3 linked regions of the Homo sapiens genome follow. The protein of the gene in region 1 purifies or fractionates together with the protein of each later gene. This does not show direct contact. Each region holds a gene or a part of one and is shown on either strand. Other genes may lie near its edges. The genes, in order: KLK2, GLG1 and SERPINE2.

Region 1 (7,451 bases):
ATCTTGACTTTGAGGTTATCTCAGACTTCCTCTATGATACCAGGAGCCCATCATAATCTCTCTGTGCCCTCTCCCCTTCCTCAGTCTTACTGCCCACTCTTCCCAGCTCCATCTCCAGCTGGCCAGGTGTAGCCACAGTACCTAACTCTTTGCAGAGAACTATAAATGTGTATCCTACAGGGGAGAAAAAAAAAAGAACTCTGAAAGAGCTGACATTTTACCGACTTGCAAACACATAAGCTAACCTGCCAGTTTTGTGCTGGTAGAACTCATGAGACTCCTGGGTCAGAGGCAAAAGATTTTATTACCCACAGCTAAGGAGGCAGCATGAACTTTGTGTTCACATTTGTTCACTTTGCCCCCCAATTCATATGGGATGATCAGAGCAGTTCAGGTGGATGGACACAGGGGTTTGTGGCAAAGGTGAGCAACCTAGGCTTAGAAATCCTCAATCTTATAAGAAGGTACCAGCAAACTTGTCCAGTCTTTGTATCTGACGGAGATATTATCTTTATAATTGGGTTGAAAGCAGACCTACTCTGGAGGAACATATTGTATTTATTGTCCTGAACAGTAAACAAATCTGCTGTAAAATAGACGTTAACTTTATTATCTAAGGCAGTAAGCAAACCTAGATCTGAAGGCGATACCATCTTGCAAGGCTATCTGCTGTACAAATATGCTTGAAAAGATGGTCCAGAAAAGAAAACGGTATTATTGCCTTTGCTCAGAAGACACACAGAAACATAAGAGAACCATGGAAAATTGTCTCCCAACACTGTTCACCCAGAGCCTTCCACTCTTGTCTGCAGGACAGTCTTAACATCCCATCATTAGTGTGTCTACCACATCTGGCTTCACTGTGCCTAACCAAGATTTCTAGGTCCAGTTCCCCACCATGTTTGGCAGTGCCCCACTGCCAACCCCAGAATAAGGGAGTGCTCAGAATTTCGAGGGGACATGGGTGGGGATCAGAACTTCTGGGCTTGAGTGCAGAGGGGGCCCATACTCCTTGGTTCCGAAGGAGGAAGAGGCTGGAGGTGAATGTCCTTGGAGAGGAGGAATGTGGGTTCTGAACTCTTAAATCCCCAAGGGAGGAGACTGGTAAGGTCCCAGCTTCCGAGGTACTGACGTGGGAATGGCCTGAGAGGTCTAAGAATCCCGTATCCTCGGGAAGAAGGGGCTGAAATTGTGAGGGGTTGAGTTGCAGGGGTTTGTTAGCTTGAGACTCCTTGGTGGGTCCCTGGGAAGCAAGGACTGGAACCATTGGCTCCAGGGTTTGGTGTGAAGGTAATGGAATCTCCTGATTCTCAAAGGGTCAGAGGACTGAGAGTTGCCCATGCTTTGATCTTTCCATCTACTCCTTACTCCACTTGAGGGTAATCACCTACTCTTCTAGTTCCACAAGAGTGCGCCTGCGCGAGTATAATCTGCACATGTGCCATGTCCCGAGGCCTGGGGCATCATCCACTCATCATTCAGCATCTGCACTATGCGGGCGAGGCCGGCGCCATGACGTCATGTAGCTGCGACTATCCCTGCAGCGCGCCTCTCCCGTCACGTCCCAACCATGGAGCTGTGGACGTGCGTCCCCTGGTGGATGTGGCCTGCGTGGTGCCAGGCCGGGGCCTGGTGTCCGATAAAGATCCTAGAACCACAGGAAACCAGGACTGAAAGGTGCTAGAGAATGGCCATATGTCGCTGTCCATGAAATCTCAAGGACTTCTGGGTGGAGGGCACAGGAGCCTGAACTTACGGGTTTGCCCCACTCCACTGTCCTCCCAAGTGAGTCTCCCAGATACGAGGCACTGTGCCAGCATCAGCTTCATCTGTACCACATCTTGTAACAGGGACTACCCAGGGCCCTGATGAACACCATGGTGTGTGCAGGAAGAGCGGGTGAAGGCACGGACTCCTGTGTGGTCAGAGCCCAGAGGGGGCCATGACGGGTGGGGAGGAGGCTGTGGACTGGCTCGAGAAGTGGGATGTGGTTGTGTTTGATCTCCTTTGGCCAGATAAAGTGCTGGATATAGCATTGAAAACGGAGTATGAAGACCAGTTAGAATGGAGGGTCAGGTTGGAGTTGAGTTACAGATGGGGTAAAATTCTGCTTCGGATGAGTTTGGGGATTGGCAATTTAAAGGTGGTTTGGGATGGCATGGCTTTGGGATGGAAATAGGTTTGTTTTTATGTTGGCTGGGAAGGGTGTGGGGATTGAATTGGGGATGAAGTAGGTTTAGTTTTGGAGATAGAATACATGGAGCTGGCTATTGCATGCGAGGATGTGCATTAGTTTGGTTTGATCTTTAAATGAAGGAGGCTATTAGGGTTGTCTTGAATTAGATTAAGTTGTGTTGGGTTGATGGGTTGGGCTTGTGGGTGATGTGGTTGGATTGGGCTGTGTTAAATTGGTTTGGGTCAGGTTTTGGTTGAGGTTATCATGGGGATGAGGATATGCTTGGGACACTGGATTCAGGTGGTTCTCATTCAAGCTGAGGCAAATTTCCTTTCAGACGGTCATTCCAGGGAACGAGTGGTTGTGTGGGGGAAATCAGGCCACTGGCTGTGAATATCCCTCTATCCTGGTCTTGAATTGTGATTATCTATGTCCACTTCTGTCTCCTTCACTGTACTTGGAATTGATCTGGTCATTCAGCTGGAAATGGGGGAAGATTTTGTCAAATTCTTGAGACACAGCTGGGTCTGGATCAGCGTAAGCTGCTCTGGTTTTATTGAACAGATGAAATCACATTTTTTTTTTCAAAATCAAAGAAATCTTATAGAGTTAACAGTGGACTCTTATAATAAGAGTTAACACCAGGACTCTTATTCTTGATTCTTTTCTGAGACACCAAAATGAGATTTCTCAATGCCACCCTAATTCTTTTTTTTTTTTTTTTTTTTTTTGAGACACAGTCTGGGTCTTTTGCTCTGTCACTCAGGCTGGAGCGCAGTGGTGTGATCATAGCTCACTGAACCCTTGACCTCCTGGACTTAAGGGATCCTCCTGCTTCAGCCTCCTGAGTAGATGGGGCTACAGGTGCTTGCCACCACACCTGGCTAATTAAATTTTTTTTTTTTTTTTGTAGAGAAAGGGTCTCACTTTGTTGCCCTGGCTGATCTTGAACTTCTGACTTCAAGTGATTCTTCAGCCTTGGACTCCCAAAGCACTGGGATTGCTGGCATGAGCCACTCACCGTGCCTGGCTTGCAGCTTAATCTTGGAGTGTATAAACCTGGCTCCTGATAGCTAGACATTTCAGTGAGAAGGAGGCATTGGATTTTGCATGAGGACAATTCTGACCTAGGAGGGCAGGTCAACAGGAATCCCCGCTGTACCTGTACGTTGTACAGGCATGGAGAATGAGGAGTGAGGAGCCACCGGAACCCCATATTGTTTAGTGGACATTGGATTTTGAAATAATAGGGAACTTGGTCTGGGAGAGTCATATTTCTGGATTGGACAATATGTGGTATCACAAGGTTTTATGATGAGGGAGAAATGTATGTGGGGAACCATTTTCTGAGTGTGGAAGTGCAAGAATCAGAGAGTACTGAATGCCAACGCTTCTATTTCAGGAACATGGTAAGTTGGAGGTCCAGCTTCTGGGCTCAGACGGGTATAGGGACCAGGAAGTCTCACAATCCGATCATTCTGATATTTCAGGGCATATTAGGTTTGGGGTGCAAAGGAAGTACTTGGGACTTAGGCACATGAGACTTTGTATTGAAAATCAATGATTGGGGCTGGCCGTGGTGGCTCACGCCTGTAATCTCATCACTTTGGGAGACCGAAGTGGGAGGATGGCTTGAGCCCAGGAGTTGGAGACCAGCCTAGGCAACATAGCCAGACCCTCTCTCTACAAAAAAATTAAAAATTAGCTGGATGTGGTGGTGCATGCTTGTGGTCTCAGCTATCCTGGAGGCTGAGACAGGAGAATCGGTTGAGTCTGGGAGTTCAAGGCTACAGGGAGCTGCGATCACGCCGCTGCACTCCAGCCTGGGAAACAGAGTGAGACTGTCTCAGAATTTTTTTAAAAAAGAATCAGTGATCATCCCAACCCCTGTTGCTGTTCATCCTGAGCCTGCCTTCTCTGGCTTTGTTCCCTAGATCACATCTCCATGATCCATAGGCCCTGCCCAATCTGACCTCACACCGTGGGAATGCCTCCAGACTGATCTAGTATGTGTGGAACAGCAAGTGCTGGCTCTCCCTCCCCTTCCACAGCTCTGGGTGTGGGAGGGGGTTGTCCAGCCTCCAGCAGCATGGGGAGGGCCTTGGTCAGCATCTAGGTGCCAACAGGGCAAGGGCGGGGTCCTGGAGAATGAAGGCTTTATAGGGCTCCTCAGGGAGGCCCCCCAGCCCCAAACTCACCACCTGGCCGTGGACACCTGTGTCAGCATGTGGGACCTGGTTCTCTCCATCGCCTTGTCTGTGGGGTGCACTGGTGAGATTGGGGGGATAAAGGAAGGGGGGCGGGTTCTGACTCTTATGCTGAAGCCCTTTTCCTCCCACCCAGTGCCCCAGCCTCGTCCCTTCAGCCCACAGTTCAGCCCAGACAATGTGCCCCTGACTCTTCCACATTGCAATAGTCCTCATGCCCACACTAGGTCCCCGCTCCCTCCCACTTACCTCAGACCTTTCTCTCCATTGCCCAGCCAAATCCCTGCTCCCAGCTGCTTTACTAAAGAGCAAGTTCCTGGGCATCTCTGTGTTTCTCTTTATGGGGTTCAAAACCTTTCAAGGACCTCTCTCCATGCCACTGGTTCCTTGGACCCTATCACTGGGCTGCCTCCTGAGCCCCTCAGTCCTACCACAGTCTACTGACTTTTCCTATTCAGCTGTGAGCATTCAACCCTGTCCCCTGGACCTTGACACCTGGCTCCCCAACCCTGTCCCAGGAAACCCAGATTCCACCAGACACTTCCTTCTTCCCCCCGAGGCTATCTGGCCTGAGACAACAAATGCTGCCTCCCACCCTGAGTCTGGCACTGGGACTTTCAGAACTCCTCCTTCCCTGACTCTTTGCCCCAGACCCGTCATTCAATGGCTAGCTTTTTCCATGGGAAAAACACGAGCACCCCCAACCACAACGGCCAGTTCTCTGATTCCCTAAATCCGCACCCTTTTCAAAACCTCAAAAACAAAACAAAACAAAACAAAGCAAGAAACAACTCAGGCAGAACTGTTTGCTTAACCTTGGACATGGTAAACCATCCAAAACCTTCCTCTCCCAGCAACTAAACCTCTCCACTGGGCACTTATCCTTGGTTTCTGGAACCTCTTATTCTCTTAGAACCCACAGCTGCCACCACAGTGTCCCTTCTCCCAGTGTAAGACCCCAAATCACTCCAAATGACCCAACCCCCAACCCGATGCCTGCTTCAGATGTTTCCCATGTCCCCTACTCTGATCTCTGGGGTCAGCTCCGTTCTCAGAGCATGAAGCCTCCCGACCTGGTCCAGCCACCAACCCGCTAACGCAGGGAATAGCTACAGAATTGCCAGCCCTCCCAGGACCCCTTGCTTGTGTCCTGGACTCCCAGTCCTGGTCCTCTGCCCCCATGTCTCTTCAAACCCACAGCTCAGCTCCCTCCCCTATCCAATTCTTTTGGGTCTGATCCCCCTGACCCAGCACCCCCTCCGCAGGTGCCGTGCCCCTCATCCAGTCTCGGATTGTGGGAGGCTGGGAGTGTGAGAAGCATTCCCAACCCTGGCAGGTGGCTGTGTACAGTCATGGATGGGCACACTGTGGGGGTGTCCTGGTGCACCCCCAGTGGGTGCTCACAGCTGCCCATTGCCTAAAGAAGTAAGTAGGACCCTGGGATCTGGGGAGGGAATGGCTGTGTCCCACAGGAATAACAGCGGGATGCTTCCCCCAGGGTCACTTCTCAGGTGAGGCTTCAGACTAAAGGAGAGAGGGAAGGTCCTGGCCCAGGTCGCACCCGGAGGCAGAGCTGGGGCTGGACCACTCTCCCCATGGCTGCCTGGGTTTCTCTCTGTGTCTGATCTCGCTGTGTCTCTTGGTATCTGGCTCTGGTTGTGTCTGTATGACTGTGTTTTGGTCTCTATGTCCCTCTCTCTTTTCTGTCTCCCTGTGTCTGTGTCTCCCCCGTCTCTGTCTCTGGGTCTCTCTGTGGCCATCTCTGTCACCGTGTGTCTCACCCTGCATCTCTTTGCCTGTCTTTCTCTCTGGGTCTCTGCCTCAGCCCTTCCTCATCACTACTGAACACACCCCGTGAGGGTGGGTGGGGAGCACCCAGAAAAAGGAAGGACTTTAAGCTCAATGTGTGTGCATGTGAGGGGGTGCCTGTCATTGCACAGCACTCTCTGCAGGACATCCCTCCACCCTGGGGAGACACAGGGAGGGCTGGTTTCAGCTGTAGCTGGGTGCACAATTGAGGAGGGAGGAAGGAGAAGGGGAAACAAGAAAGGAGGGGAAGGTGGCCGGGCACGGTGGCCCACGCCTGTAATCCCAGCACTTTGGGAGGCCGAGGTGGGTGGATCATCTGAGGTCAGGAGTTTGAAACCAGCCTGGCCAACATGGCAAAACCCCGTCTCTACTAAAAATACAAAAAGTAGCCAGGCGTGGTGCTGCGCGCCTGTAATCCCAATTACTAGGGAGGCTGAGGCAGGAGAATCGCTTGAACCCGGGAGGGAGAGGTTGCAGTGAGCCGAGATCGTGCCACTGCACTCCAGCCTGGGTGACAGAGCAAGACTCCATCTCAGAAAAAACAAACAAACAAACAAACAACAAAAAAAATCGAAAGGAGGGGAAGGGAGCTGGAGAGAGAAAGGGGGACGTGGCCCTGAGCTGTGGGCCGGGCCACCCGCCACTACAGAGCCCTCACTCCAGCCCCAGCTGCAGGTGAGCCACCCTCATGCCTCTCCTCCTCCCCCTGCTACTCCACACTCCTCAGATGCCCCCGTGGCCTCCCTCCTTTTTCTCTCCCACACTGTATCACCCCTGGCTTCCTCTCTGCTGTTTCTCCTTCTCTCTCTGACTTCCCGCATCCTTTTCTCATTTGTCTATTTCTCACTCCCTTCCTGGTTCTGTTCTTTCTCCCTTCCTCTTCCCCATGTCTATTTCTTGCTGTCTCTGTCTCTTCTTTGCTCATCCTAATTCTCACTGTTCTCCCTTCTGTTTTTGTCATTCCTCTGCCATTTTATGCTCTCTCTTTTCCACTTCGTTTCTTTCAGTTTCTGTCTCTGCCTCTCACATGATCACACTCCTGTTTTCTAACTCACTGTCTGTATTTCACCACGACTATATCTCCCCGACCCCTGTGCTTTTCTCACTGTTTCTTTTTCTTCCCTTTGGAGTCTCCCTTATCCTCCCCTGCCCCATCTACCTTTCCCCATTTTCTCTCTCCTCATGCATCCACCCCCTTCCTCCCCAGGAATAGCCAGGTCTGGCTGGGTCGGCACAACCTGTTTGAGCCTGAAGACACA
Region 2 (8,084 bases), on another chromosome or scaffold:
GAATGTGGAGGCTTCAGTGAACTCTCAAACCCAGAAGACTGAGGCTGCAGTGAGCTATGACTGCACCACTGCACTCCAGCCTGGATGACAGAGCGAGACCCTGTCTCCATAATAAAAAATTTTTTTTCAGAAAGAAAAGTTCCATAAGGTTCCAAAAAGCAAAAGTTAAGTTTGACATATGCCAAGTACTACAGTGAATCCACATGAATGAACTGATATGTAGGCACTGTACTAGGTATCACAAGTATTTTAGAGAAGACAAGAATTCGGAAGGGTGTGCACAGATGATATGGAAATACGACACCATTTTATACGGTATAAGGTACTTGAGCGTCCTTGGATTTCAATATCTGCAGGAGGCCTGGAACCATCCTCCAGTGATACCAAGGAACAACTGTACTCATATGCTCTGCCTTTTCATAATTCCAATAATGGGTACGGATAGGAAAATGTTCCCTGCATTTGCATGCAAAGGGACAGAAAAGTACATATATCTATTTCACTATCAAATAGTTCTACTTACTGAACAGCAAATACAAAACATATTCTATACATGTTTCTTCAAATGTGCCTAACTAGTTTACTTCTTTAAGTTATGCTCTTTCAAACACATAGATCAGATTTAATTAACTCCCAGACTAAGCAGAATGAAATTTCCTTTCGCTGTCTTTAAAGAAAAAGAAAATAGGGTGGGGGTGGTGGCTCACACCACTAATCTCAGCACTTTGGGAGCCCGAGGCTGGCAGATCACAAGGTCAGGAGATCGAGACCATCCTGGCCAACATGGTGAAACCCTGTCTCTACTAAAAATACAAAAATTAGCTGGGCGTGGTGGCGCTCGCCTGTAGTCCCAGGTACTCAGGTGGCTGAGGCAGAATTGCTTAAAGCCGGGAGGTGGAGGTTGCAGTGAGCCAAGTTCAAGCCACTGCACTCCAGCCTGGCGACAGAGTGAGACTCCATCTCAAAAAAAAGAAAAGAAGTTTAAAAATAACTCCACCTCCTGAAGAATACACATAGGTGTTCACAGTACTCTTCCTTCATTATTTCTGTATGTAAAAACTGGAGGAAAAAACATTAAATTGGAAATTTGGTCCCTCCACCTCCCCCCAACCCCCCAAAACCCCCATTTCCAATTTATATGACGCCTTTCCTCCTCTGGAGCATAAAACTGCCTCCTTTAAGTGGAGGTTTCCAAATGTCCGGAATACACATGAAGGATATATACACTCCTTGAATAGGCCACTTTTTGCCACTTTCCCTAATAATGTGCTGTTTCTACCACAAACTACTACTAATTGTTTGGTCACCAGTATTAGGATCCTAGTTTGATGAAACGACATCTATTATGTGTCCTCAAAGAGCGAAAAGAAAATTCCAAAAAGTTCGACAGAGTTAGGAATATTAGCTGTATCTACCAGAGGACTATCCCTCTAGTCGTTAAGCTGAAGATGAGAAGTCAGGTAAGGCCTCACATTTCTAGGGGCTCTGGAAACTTCCTTTCTTTCTGTCTCCTGCTTATGTATGTCTTTTCCTCTATCTGAATTGCTTTTGTATAGAATACTAGAACACGAGATGAAGGGGGGAAATGCCAAGAGAAGCAAATTTCTACAAGCAAGTGGTCTTGCTATAGCTTGAACGCCTTAAACAAATCTGATATTTAAAAAAAAAACCAAAAACAGTATCAAGTGGTAGCTTCATTCTATTTGTCCACCTTTAGGGCTAATTTTATATACCTACACCTCTGGAAAAAGTTACTACTGTCAGATTTGCTCCCAAACTTTGAGAATTGTCATTATGGTCTGCAGCATTAAACCTAGATTATAAATTATCAATGTCACTTGATTATAAATTATCAATGTCACTCAACTGAATCACACCAAGCAACGACAAATGTAGATTTCATTAAGAGATACTGTTAAAATCACATTCAGACCTCAGAAAGGCAAGATCCCATAACCCAGTCACAAACACAGCTTCAAACGCTTCCCCAACTTTTCAAGCTTTGGGGCGCCAAGTCACTGGGAGTTAACAGCTTAAACATGGGGTTCAATACAACTGACCAAAGGAAGTGAAGAAAACAAAGCATACATTAATTTCAGCACCAAAAATATGGATTTGCGAATTACATCTACTGCTAATAAACAGATCATTCTTTACAGCCTAAGTACGCCAGGCATTTTTTTATGTTTAAATGGCTTGCCACAAATTGTCCTAGTCGAAACTGATGGCAAAATCCTAAACTGATCTTCGGCGAGGAGACACTCTGCATAGAGCATCACACAAAAGACAGGAGCGAACAGACACGCTCTGGGCCTCGGCGGATTGCGGCCAGGAGCCCAGGTTTTCGTCCCAGACCCCGGCAACAGGGAGGGAAATAAGGGCGGGGGAAAGAAGGAGTGGGAGTGGTATCCTTTTCCCTGAAAGCGCCTGGGAGTGAGGAGCAAAGAGGGAAGGAGCGAGTGCAGCACAGAGGAAGCAAGGAAAGCAGCCGACCGGCGTCAGCGGCTTCCAAGGCCGGCAACACCCTCGGGCCCGCACCAGGCCTGGCCCTCCCGGCTTCGTCCCACCTCCTCACCTCCCTCACATCCTGCAGGCACTCGAGCACCGCCAGGTTGTTGCTCCAGGTGTGCTTAGGGCACACGCGGGTCACGTCCTCCCTGCAGGACTCTTCCTCCGCCAGCTTCCAGCCCCCACCAGCCCCCGCTCCTCCCCGCCGGGCCGGAGGCCCACCCGCCGGGAAAGGCGGCTGCGGCGGCTGAGGCTGCTGTTGCTGTTGCTGCTGCTGCTGTTGCTGCTGAAGCTGCGATGACTGAGGCAGCTGGGGCAGCTGCTGACCCGCCGGGCCGCCGCCTCCGGCCTGCCCTACGAAGGACACAAAGTTGGCCCCGGGACCCTGGCCCTGGCTGTGGACGCCCTGGCCGGGGAGTTTCTCGGCCCCGGCCGCGAATAGCAGCAGCAGATGCAGCGCCGCCGACAAGCGGAACATCCTCCGTACACGTCCACACGCCGCCATCTTGAGTCCGCGGCGAGCTCGACGCACTCGCCGGCGCCGCGTATTTAAATGAGGGGGTGGAGACGCTGGGCGTGGCAGCGTGGCCCTGCCGAGCCCCGCCCCGCCGGCGCCGACCCGCGAACCCAGAGTGGGGCGAAGGAGGAGGCCGTGCTGGAAACCGCACACACCCTGGACCGGCGGGCGGGAGAGCGGCGCTCCTTACCCGGGGGGGTTGCTGGGGTTTCTTAAAAAGCCCGGGCAGGGCGGCCTACTCTAATTCCATTTGCTGTCACAAAAAAAAAAATCAAGGGAATTGGGGTTGCCACAACCAAAATGGCCGGTAGAATATGTCGCCGGTTCAATGACTTGGAAAACAAAAACTTTATATGTAGAGGTGAACTTTGCACAACCAGGTGTATTACGGAATCGGAAAGCCTCTCCTTGTATCGCTCCCTCCTTCCTTCCTTCCTTCCATCTGCCTCAGAAGTCTTTCTTAGCCAAAGAGAGAGACAGCATTGAATAGGGTTAAGAGCATAAGTTCTGGGGTAAGAAAAAAAATTAAGGTTATAATCCTTGCTCTGGCAGGGTACGCAAGAGCTCAAATGTAAAGTACCATTGGCAAGATTCGAAATAATAATTTAAGTGCCTGGCCCACAACACTGAACTCAAAAAGTCACAGCCAGTATTGTTAATAAACTGGGAAGCCGTTTATGCATGAATCCTGATTTTAAGCCAGCATTTAGATTCATGTTTAAAGGATGAAAAAATAATAATAAAACACATCTTTGAGGACTCGGGTTAAGTCTGTGTGTCGGTAACTGTTCTCATTGACCTGCATGCAACACCGCAGGCACCCCACACTAGCATCCCCTCCCTGTCCTTAGGAGAGAGGATATGTTCCCAAAGCCTCTTCACATCCGCTGTGTAATCTGAGCCATGCATCAGGCCTGCGTTAGGTTCTCATTTAACTGAAGAATGGCACAGAGATGTTAACAGTTCTGCGTGGAGGGATTAAATGAGCTGCCCAAGAGGAACTCTGCCATCCTGTAGACAGCTAGGCTAGCCACCAGAATCCCTGGGGCTTCCCACCACCCTGGCGCACTTTCATCCCACTCTGTCCATGCACATGTTGGGGAATGAGGGCAGTTTGGGTTGTGTAATCTCCACTGGTCATTGTGTCCAAAAATGCGAATTACATCTACTGTAGTAAACAGACAGCTTCTGCTGTCCTGACCCGCAAATGAGCAGTCAAGACCAAGTTAGACATAACTAGAACCTGAAAAGTCAGGAGCTCAGGGAACCCAAAAGGAGCTCCTGAGACTGAAGATATTCTGTGAGTACAAATTACCCACTGTGGCTGACCCCAGGCCTCTATCATGGGGAATGAGAGCTTGTTGGCATCTCCACCAACGGTCACCTTTGCTACTGTCATAAAATGATCATGAGGCTGCTGCTAACCTTGAGCACTGACTAAGGCAGCCCCATGTTTATTAGCAAACACATGGCATAGGTAAGTTTCAGTCAGGCAGGCTGGACACATCACCAGAAGTCCTTGAGATGTCACTAGCGTATGTTAATTTTTTTTTTTTTTTTTTGAGACGGAATCTCACTCTGTTGCCCAGGCTGGAGTGCAGTGGCGTGATCTCTGCTCGGAGCTGCCACCTCCACCTCCTGGGTTCAAGCAGTTCTCCTGCCTCAGCCTCCGAGTGGCTGGGATTACAGGCATGTGCCACCACACCCAGCTAATTTTTGTATTTTTAGTAGCGACGGGGTTTTGCCATGTTGGCCAGGCTGGTCTCGAACCCCAAACCTCAGGCGATCTGCCCACCTCAGCCTCCCAAAGTGCTAGGATTACAGGCGTGAGGTACTGCGCCTGGCCTCCATTAATTTTCAATGCTGAGTCTGCATGTGTTCAGACAAGTGGGAGATTATTTTAAGCCAGTTTAACTAGAAATTGACAATCCTAGATAAGCCATCAGTTACTTATCTTTCAGCCTGAACTGAGGAAACCACAGCCACAGATTGCCTCCAGAGATAGGGAGGAGTACACATGGCTATCTTGAAATCTCAGTCACCAAGAAGCAAGAAACAGATAAATCTGGGAACCTGGCCAGCTCAGGCTGTCAGGCAAGCGTAGACCTTACGGAAGCCACGAGCCCCCAAACCCACGGAAAGACAGTTGCCTTAACTCAGGTCTTCTGGTCTCATTGCCTTTTCAATATAACATATACTATCTCTATCAGAAACGGGGAATTCTTTTTTCTTTTTTTTTTGAGAGGAGTCACACTGTCGCCAGGCTGAAGTGCAGTGGCGCGATCTCGGCTCACTGCAACCTCTGCCTCCCGGATTCAAGCAATTCTCTTGCCTCAGCCTCCCAAGTAGATGGGACTACAAGTGTGCGCCACCATGCCCAGCTAATTTTTGTATTTTTAGAGACGGGATTTCACCATGTTGGCCAGGAGAGTCTCAATCTCTTGACCTTATGATCCATCCTCCTCGGCCTCCCAAAGTGCTAGGATTACAGGCATGAGCCACTGTGCCCAGCCAAGAAACGGGGAGTTCTTTTTACCCTTTATTGTATCCTTTGTTTCCTGATCCTCACTTTCTTAATTTATTCATCAAGCAGGTATCTGTTGAACATTTTCTTTTTTTTTTTTTTTGAGACGGAGTCTTGCTCTGCCACCCAGGCTGGAGTGCAGTGTTGTGATCTCAGCTCACTGCAACCTCCGCCTCCTGGGTCCAAGCGATTCTCCTGCTGTAGCCTCCCAAGTAGCTGGTATTACAGGCGTGCACCACCACAACCGGCTAGTTTTTGTACTTTTAGTAGAGACGGGGTTTCACCATGTTGGCCATGCTGATCTTGAATTCCTGACCTCAAGGGATCCACCTACCTTGGCCTCCCAAAGTGTTGGGATTACAGGGATAAGCCACCGGGCCCAGCCATGAGCATTTTCCTTGTTTGTTTTCAGACGGGGTCTCCCTCTGTCACCCAGGCTAGAGTGCAGTGGCATGATAATTGTGGCTCACTGCAGCCCCAACCTCCTGGGCTCAAGCAGTCTTCCCGCCTCAGCCTCCTAAGTAGCTGGGACTACCGGTGTGTGCCACCACGCCCAGCTAATTATTTTTTTTTTGTAATTTTAGTATTTTTTTTTGTTTTTGAGACAGGGTCTTGTTCTGTCACCCAGACTACAATATAATGGCATGATCATGTTCACTGCATCCTCAGCCTCCCAAGCTCAAGTGATCCTTCCACCTCAGCTTCCCAAAGTGCTGGGATTACAGGTGTCAGCCCTGCACCTGGGCTGTTGAGAATTTGTTCTTTTATTATTATTATTATTATTATTATTATTATTATTATTATTATTATTTGAGATGGAGTGTTTCACTCTTGTTGCCCAGGCTGCTGTGCAATGGCATGATCTCAGCTCTGCAACCTCTGCCTCCCGGGTTCAAGTGATTCTCCTGCCTCAGCCTCCCCAAGTAACTAGGATTACAGGCGCCTGCCACCACGCCCAGCTAGTTTTTGTATTTTTAGTAGAGAGAGATTTCACCATGTTGACCAGGCTAGTCTCGAACTCCTGACTTCAGGTGATTGCCTGCCTCGGCCTCCCAAGTGCAACCATGAAAAGAGGACTCTAAGTGTTCCAAAATCAGACATTAATAACTAGTTCAAGATTCTAAGGAGGTGGGAATAAGCATTCAAAATGAAGGCCTGCTAGGCATGGTGGCTCACACCTACCTGTAATCCCAGCACTTTGGGAGGCCGAGGCGGGTGGATCACCTGAGGTCAGGCCTTTACTAAAAATACAAAAATTGGCTGGGCATAATGGTGCAACCTATAGTCCCAGTTACTCAGGAGGCTTACGCGGGAAGATCACTTGAAAGCGGCAAGTGGAGGTTGCAGTGAGCTGAGATTATGCCACTGCACTCCAGCCTGGGTGACAGAGTGAGATCCTGTCTCAGAAAAATAAAAAAATTAAAAAATTTAAAAAAAAAGGGGGTCAGGCGCAGTGGCTCATGGATGTAATCCCAGCTACTCGGAGGCTGAGGCAGGAGAACTTCTTGAACCCAGGAGGTGGAGGTTGCAGCTCCGAGCAGAGATCACGCCGCTGCACTCCAGCCTGGGCAACAGAGCGAGACTCGGTCTAAAAAAAAAAAAAAAAACAGTGCCTATCAAAGACTCAGTGTTGCAGGGTGGGCGCAGTGGCTCACGCCTGTAATCCCAGCCCTTTGGGAGGCCAAGGCGGGCAGATGACAAGGTCAAGAGATCGAGACCATCCTGGCCAACACGGTGAAACCCCGTCTCTACTAAAAATACAAAAATTAGCTGGGCGTGGTGGCGTGCGCCTGTAATCCCAGCTACTCAGGAGGCTGAGGCAGGAGAATCGCTTGAACCCAGGAGGCAGAGGTTGCAGTGAGCCGAGATTGCGCCAGGGCACTCCAGTCTGGCGACAGAGCAAGACTCTGTCTCCAAAAAAAAAAGACTCAGTGTTGCTCTCTGTTGCTGACAAGTTGGACATTCAGGGGCAGCAGTAGCTGGATGTACCTTGGTGAGTGGGAGTCCATGCTACTGAGCTCACATGGAACCTGCATGTCTGCTGCTATGGCTGCTCTGTTCACGTGCCCAGAATGTCGGGTCAGGAGGAGCTAGAGGCTAGCTCATGTGAATTGGCTGTGTCATTTTGCTTACTTGGTTGCTCAGTGCCTCTTCTATGGTGGAGGCTTTCTGGAGGGCATTATTAAGAGATACAAAAATCTTTATATATTGTACTCACCCCCACACGTTCATCCACATGCCTCTACTCCAGGCCAGGCCATTGGACTTTGTCCAGGAATCTGTATATATTCTCATCTTACATACAAAGTGGAATGACTAAGAGCACAGCCAGCATTTCCACTAGTTTGGAAAAGTTTTCACTCTCCACCATCTTTCAGAACCACATTTGCATTCTTTAGGTCTGTAATGGTGGCTCTAATCTTCACCAATCCCCATCCTCCCAATGGAACATTTTTTTTTTGTGATTAGTTATCATGAGCTTATTATAAAAGAGAGATATGGAGGCCAGGTGCGGTGGCTTACGCCTGTAATCCC
Region 3 (7,102 bases), on another chromosome or scaffold:
CTTTTAGTATACACATTTCAAACAGAAAAATCCACACCTTTAGAAAGAAAGCTCTCCCTTACAATTAAGTCATCACACAGATTCTCCCTGGCATCCCCTAATCTCACTGTTAGAGCAACAACTCAGGTGTGGGCATATACTCAGACTGCTGTATGAAGTCCAAAGTGGATAACTGCCAGTAAAATCCTTAAAAAAATCCTATCAATGGTAGCAGAAAACACATTTCCTATCTGGGAATGCTTGCTAAGGTTAACCCAACATTCTTAGAACTCTTTTGCATATTGACGGAATCAAATCATAATTAAATGACCATCACCATGTGCTTTAACAATATTCACCATATGTTTAAAATAGTTATTTCTTGGTATCTGGACATCACTGGACACAGTAGAATGATTTTTTCACAGTCAGAAAAACAAGAATGAAAAGAGAAGCCTCTGGATGCTACCCTTGCAGAGACCTAAATATTAAACCAAATAGATTATTTTTCCTACTGTATAGACATTTTTTGTTTTGTTTTATTTTGAGACAGAGCCTCCCTCTGTTACCCAGGCTGGAGTGCAGTGGCACAATTCTGCTTACTGCAACTTCCGCCTCCGGGGTTCAAGTGATTCTCATGCCTCAGCCTCCCAAGTAGCTGGGATTACGGGCGTGCGTCACCATGCCCAGCTAATTTTTTGCATTTTTAGTAGAGACAGGGTTTCACTATGTTCAGGCTGTTTTTGAATTCCGAGCCTCAAGTGATCTGCCCACCTCAGCCTCCCAAACTGCTGGGATTACAGGCGTGAGCCAGCATAGACATGTCTGGCCCTGCATAGACATTTATTCGTTATTCACAACTAACCTAATGGAAAAAAGCAGCCAGCATGACAGGGCTACCTGCAACGTGTTCCCTGGAAGACCTCTTGGTAACACTGCTGTTTACATCTCACAAATGCAAGGGTGGAGTCAGAAGGAGGTTATTTCATGCAACAGCCTTCCTTTGCTTCATGGCCAACGCACAAGAGCCTGAAGCCTGCGGGCAGGACAGATGACCAGGTGATCATTGGGGAGTACTGCCCACTGAGAGTGCAGCAGGAAAGGTGTCTGGAAACAAAGCATGCAAAGACACAGAGCAAGTCACTCATTCATCAGGCCAAAGACACGAGGAAGACATGAGTCTCAGAGAAGTGCTCACCTGTACTTCTGTGACAAATATTACCCAATGCCACAACCACAGCCACCTCGTGTCCCGAAAGTCAGCTCCATTCCTGCCACTGTGCTTAGCGCCTAAGATATACTCTTCGCTTCATCCTCACAACACTTCAGGGGTGGCCCTTAAGCCTAAACACCTTTAGGCCCAACTCACGGATGGGCTTGGAGATGTTTAGAAATTTGGCTTTGGCTCATACCCTCCAATATGTAGCCTCTAGATTCAAACCAAAGCCCGCTGGCCTCCAAATCCTCCACACTCTTAATTACTATACAGTGGAGGAAAAGGAGGAAACACATATTTTAAAATGACAAATTTTGAAATAAAGGTAACTATAAACCTTTGAAAAAGAAGTTAAATCGCAAACAGAGTTCAATTAGGCATGTTTGAAAAGTCATGGCACACTTGTTCTGTGATTCTGCTGAGTTTTATCCAGCTCAGCTTAAGTTATTCGCTTGGACTCTTGTGTAAATCTCTCTACCTTCTCAATCCAAAGGTCAGTACTAATTTTAGATTTCAGTCCCAGAAAAAAACAAGTGTCTGAGGAAGGAACTAGGGGGCCAAAGGCATAAAACCATGATTCAAACGTACCACACAGATACTGGCCTCTTTCTGTATCATGTGTTTTGGTTGTGATACTAGGGCTATCACGCAGCACGGCGAGGAGGTAGTCTTGAAAGGAGGAGTGTGCTTTGACACAAATTTCTTCTCAAGAAGGTATAAACATTGATGGGATGTAAATCTTTGAATATCCATGGTATCAGCTCACGGTTCACACATCTACAGACCCGGGTCCAGGCTCTGGCACTGACACATAAAGGCTGTGCGACCCTACATATTCACAGGGTGTGCCACTTTGGCATACAGGCTGTGTGACCCCCCACATACTGCGTGACCGTGGACCCTTTATCTCTGCCACACCCTTCCTTCCCAACTACATGAGTGGGAATGATATCAGCATCTAGCTGAGAGGCAGGCACGAGGCTCTAGGAGACCACATAGAGATTCCGTTGGGGGGAAAACAGAAAGAAAGGCAGCTGGGGAACGCCAGGCAGCACGGTCCTCTCCACTCCCTTTCCTCCTAACCAAGGATTGACCATGTGATTTGGGATTCAGCCAATCATAGAACCTCCCTCCTCCGCCCACAGCCATTGGTACACGGAAGGGCATGTGACCACGTGACCTAGCATCAGCCAATCACAGGACCTCACTCCTCTGCCCACAGCCATTGGTATCGGGACGAGCATGTGACCATGTGACTTAGCATCAGCCAATCATAGGACCTCACTCCTCTGCCCACAGCCATTGGTACAGCGAACAGCATGTGACTGAAACTAAGCCAATCAGAATTCCTCCCTAGGATTTCCACCCCCCACCCCCCCCGCCGGCTGGAACTGGCTGAAAAGCCCCTCTTTCCTCCTCACTGAGGAGGCTGTAGGGAGGTAAGCCTGGAGCTACCTACAGTCATGGTCCCGGAGAGGACAACCACAATCAGCAGACAGAAGCAGAGATGAGAGGCAAGGAGAAAGAGAAGAAAGCCTCCAAGTCCTCAGTCTTTGGTTCCAGTCATCTTCAGGGCCAGAGTCACCTCTCCCATGCTTGAGTGGGCAGTGTCAGCCAACAGCTCTCCGCCTTGTTTCCGAGTTATTTTGATTTGGGTTTGTTCTCTTGTAAGCAAAAGATAATGCAGTAGTTAATAGTTCCTATAATCTTAACAGTGACCAAATCCTCAGTAAGAATAACTTCTTGAGTGGATTTCTTATTTAAAAACTGCAGAAATAAATTTTAGTAGAGGAAGCAAACATTGCCTTTATTTACATAGCACTTTCCCCAAAGGAAGAAAGAAACATCCATTTTCATTTGTAGTCACCTTATTCATTTCCGAGTGGGCTTTGTATTTGGCATTAAACTCTTTCACATACCCACATCCACCTTCAAGATTTGGCCCATAAAAACTTAGGATAAAAACAAGTGGTTATTTTTTCTATAGCTATATTTGCTGGAACTACATGGAGGGCGAAAGTTGGGGTAGGGGTAAGAGAAGGCACTGATGCTATTTTTGGTATGCTCTCAAGAGAAATTCCCCAGGTTACGAGTTCACACTAGGGGTTGGGGGTGGGGCACGGTTTACAAAAACAAAGTGCATTTACCAAGATTTGCAGCCGTAACAGGAAATCCTTTCTGACTCTTGATGGGATTTTTTCTTTTATATTAAAGTCTCCTCATATTATTCTTCAAAGAATTAAATAAGAAAAATGGAAAGGCACAATGGATGTAAATTCCAATTCTCAAATGATCTTCTGAAGCAAAGGATAATGTCTTACGTCAAACTGTGGCAAAAGCCTGGGTGTTCCTGATCTAATCTTGAACTAGGGTGTCCACCCCAACCTTTGGAGGAATCCTAGGACATGTTTGCCAAAACATACGAGTGGAATTACAAATAGAGGATTGCTTGGGCTCAGTGGCCATCCTCATGCACAGAAAGAATCCCAGAAGGGATGCCGACTTCCCTGGACTGGGCTTACATCCAGACCTAGAAATCTAACAGCAGAATAAAGGCAAGACTCACTGACTGTAGAAATAGACTTGGCCTGTTGGATGGGAGGTGGTATTTCTCAAAAGAGAAATAAAATCATACTAATCTCTCAGTATTCTTAAATTGGGAACTTGCAGACAAGAGATAACCTAAAGATGTAGTTTATTGCATTTGACTCCATTCTGTATCTAAGGGTATTTTTTAAAAACCCAACATTGGTTTTCAGATTAGGCGTGCAATCTACTCATGAGGAAAGATGGTTTGCAAAGAGAAGATGGGCACATTTATGTGTGGAGAACAGGTTGACAAGATTCAAGTATATGGGACCTAATTTATTTAAAATTTTTATAAATGCTCTAAGTGGGAATACAAACTAAATCTTCATGTTGGCCCATGATGCTGTTTCTGAATATAATGCTGAATGATTTTATAGGCTTAAAAAAGTGAGAGACAAGAACTTTAAGGTGTATGAGCACAGGATAATGCATTTACGAAAAAATTTTATCTAGACTTAACACTTATGAGAAAGCCACATCAAAAGGAAACTGAGCCAAGAATTTATAGGTTTTAAAAATAAGACACCTTTTAGATCATTTATTTCAATATACCCATTATACAGACAAGGAAACTGAGTTCTAGATGGTAACCTACACGCTCTATTGGTGGTGCAGCCCATACCCTCTCCCAGCCTGCTCTTTCCACCAAATGTGACTGACGATACCAGCCAAAAAAGTTCCATGGCAAAAAAAAAAAAAAAGTCACCAAGAGGTCATATATCACCATCACCAAAGTTAATAGAAATAAACCAAAATGCATTCTCCTACCCTGTAAAACCACGAAATGCAGAGTGCAGCCCAGCCAACAGACCTCAAGGAGGGCAGAACCATGCCAAAGGGAGGTTCAGATGAGGATAACTGAAGTGAACACAGGCACACAAGTGCTTCTGTATTAGACTTCCGCTTTTCTCTAAGTAATGTTTTATCTCAAAAGACAAGGTTAATCAAAAATTTAAAATGTCTGAGGATATATATTAAATTTGCTAGTACCAAAATGAGGGCTGGAGGTCTGGCAGAGAGAGCTCCCCTTTGAGTCTGGAATACAAACACTCTTCCATAAAGCATGCAGTAAACTTACAAAAAATATGAATATGGTTTAGTTCAGACATCTGTTAATTGCCTTTGGGCCACACACCACCGCTGGTGCAAATAAAACTAAAACACAGGCACGTCTTTCTGGAGCTTAGAGTCTACTGGATAGGGCATGTTGCTACAACACAAAAAACTGCCATCATTGAGGTAGGCACGGGGAGGGGTGACGTGTGTGTACACTGCACATGTGCCACAGAGGGCTGGGGTGGTGACTGCCAGCAAGGCCTTTTTGAGCCTGAGTCTTGAAAAAGGAGAAATCAGCCAGACAATGAACACAGGAGGAGAAAGGGAATTCCAGGCAGAGGTACAGAAGGAGCAAAGGCAGAAAAGCACTGGGCGGTACCAGTGCAGTTTACGGGAGGTTCAGTTTTGCAAGAAAAGAATGTTTCAGGCAGGGGACAAGGCAAGGAGATGGGAAGGGAGTGAAGAAAGCTTTGACTCTGTTGGGTCATTACAAATGGCCAGCAGCCTGGTGAGCCCATGGAGCACTGTGGAAAGTTCCCTGGCTGCATGCTGACAGGAACTGAGTTCTGGGTCAAGACTCTGCCCTAAGGTGTCTAAATGACCTCAGGAACACACTGTATGACTCTGGATACCACATGTAAAACAAGGTTCCCCATGTTCCAAGGGTGGGGGACTCCCTGGGATGGCCTATGCCTCCATATTTACAGACTCCCCACTGCTGTTTGGGATATAGAATCGACCCTGCCCTATCTCCACCCAGGGGGGCTGCGAGGAAGTGGGGCAGTAGTCAGGCTTGTAGAAATGCTTTGTAAACAGCAGGACTGTCATCAACACTAGAACTCTGTATTAACTACCCTACAGAAGCTCAAAAGCATCTTCAGAAACTCGGGTACAACACTGTATAAAGATAGCGGAGAGCTCATCTTTCAATCTTGAGATACCAAACTTGTGATATGACATGGCCACTCCTTTAGAGTCAGGGATTTAAGCCCAGATCAAGAGGGAGCCATTGAATTTTATTAGGAGGGACCCAAGAAGACTTGGATTTGGGGCAGCAGGAGGAAAGTCACACCAGCAATAACATGGAAGAGAGTTAGAAGGGATGCAACATGAGGTGCACGACACTGTGCAGTAAGCACTAGGCATTCCCAGGCTGTCGATGATCGTCTCAGCCTAGGGTCTCTAGCTCTGAAGCCCATGGGAGCCAGAACGCCACTATAAGCAAGGGTCACAGGTCTGGGGGAACCAGAAAGCAACCTACCTCCAGTGTATTCAGGCACTGGAAACCCAGCAGCAGCTGAGGTTTGCCACATGGGAATGTAAGCTTCCTATTCCAGGTTTTTTTTGTTTTGTTTTTGTTTTTGTTTTGAGACAGAGTCTCACTCTTTCACCCAGGCTCGAGAACAGTGGCGCCATCTCAGCTCACTGCAACCTCTGCCTCCCGGGTTCAAGCGATTCTCCTGCCTCAGCCTCCCGAGTAGCTGGGATTATAGGCGCAGCTAATTTTTGTATTTTTAGTAGAGACGCGGTTTTACCATGTTGATCAGGCTGGTCTTGAACTCCTGACCTCAAGTGATCCGCCTGGTTCAGCCTCCCACAGTGCTGGGATTACAGGTATGAGCCACCACGCACTGCCTCATCCAGGTCTTCTGGCTTTTAGGAGAAGCTATACATCCAAGTGGCATCTCCAGATTTCTAAATATTAACTCAAGTTGTATATACTTTGTTCAGGCCAACAACACTGCTGCCTACTGCTAGAAGTGGCACACCGGCCACCATTTTGCCACTTTTGGGCTCTAAAGCAAGGCAAGGCCAGCGTGACTAGAGCGGACCTTTGTGGAATTTCACAGCATGAAGAAGCAACAGGATCTGGTGACAGCCTGCATGTGGGCAGTGCGGGAGCCTGGCATCACCGTGAGACCCCTGCTCCAACATCTCCATGAACGGTGGAACCACTGCCAAAAAAAAACGGACAAATCTTCGCTAACAATGAAGCGGATATGGGGTGGGTGGTGAAAACTAAAATCAATTTTGGATTTATTTTGGGGTGTTTTTTTGGCCTAAAGGGCACGGGTAAGCGCACCAGACTGCAGGTAACTGATTGGAACACAGGAGCATGCTCAAGCTAGCTTAACATGCCAATCTGGGACTCGCTTCATATTGGTGAGAGTCGAAGCTGTGGGAACATGGTTCACCCAAATACACAGAGCACAAAAGGGATGACAGCGAACCCTGGGTAACCCCAAGAGGTAGCAGAGATGC

The links.
Region 2: the proteins of KLK2 (region 1) and GLG1 purify together in Homo sapiens (affinity purification with mass spectrometry; 2 studies listed by BioGRID and IntAct, with this or other methods). This does not show direct contact.
Region 3: the proteins of KLK2 (region 1) and SERPINE2 purify together in Homo sapiens (affinity purification with mass spectrometry; 3 studies listed by BioGRID and IntAct, with this or other methods). This does not show direct contact.

Annotation. Positions count from the first base shown.
Region 1 is NC_000019.10:50,869,073-50,876,523, forward strand, and holds the start of KLK2 (kallikrein-2 isoform 1 preproprotein), read left to right. Parts: upstream 1-4,366; 5' UTR 4,367-4,401; coding exon 4,402-4,447; intron 4,448-5,648; coding exon 5,649-5,808; exon of another isoform or gene 5,809-5,894; intron 5,895-7,399; coding exon 7,400-7,451. UniProt on the Homo sapiens protein: Glandular kallikreins cleave Met-Lys and Arg-Ser bonds in kininogen to release Lys-bradykinin.
Region 2 is NC_000016.10:74,604,082-74,612,165, forward strand, and holds the start of GLG1 (Golgi apparatus protein 1 isoform 3 precursor), read right to left. Parts: upstream 3,034-8,084; 5' UTR 3,014-3,033; coding exon 2,576-3,013; intron 1-2,575. UniProt on the Homo sapiens protein: Binds fibroblast growth factor and E-selectin (cell-adhesion lectin on endothelial cells mediating the binding of neutrophils).
Region 3 is NC_000002.12:224,029,193-224,036,294, forward strand, and holds part of SERPINE2 (glia-derived nexin isoform b precursor), read right to left. Parts: intron 2,287-7,102; exon of another isoform or gene 1,784-2,286; intron 1,016-1,783; exon of another isoform or gene 880-1,015; intron 1-879. UniProt on the Homo sapiens protein: Serine protease inhibitor with activity toward thrombin, trypsin, and urokinase. Promotes neurite extension by inhibiting thrombin. Binds heparin.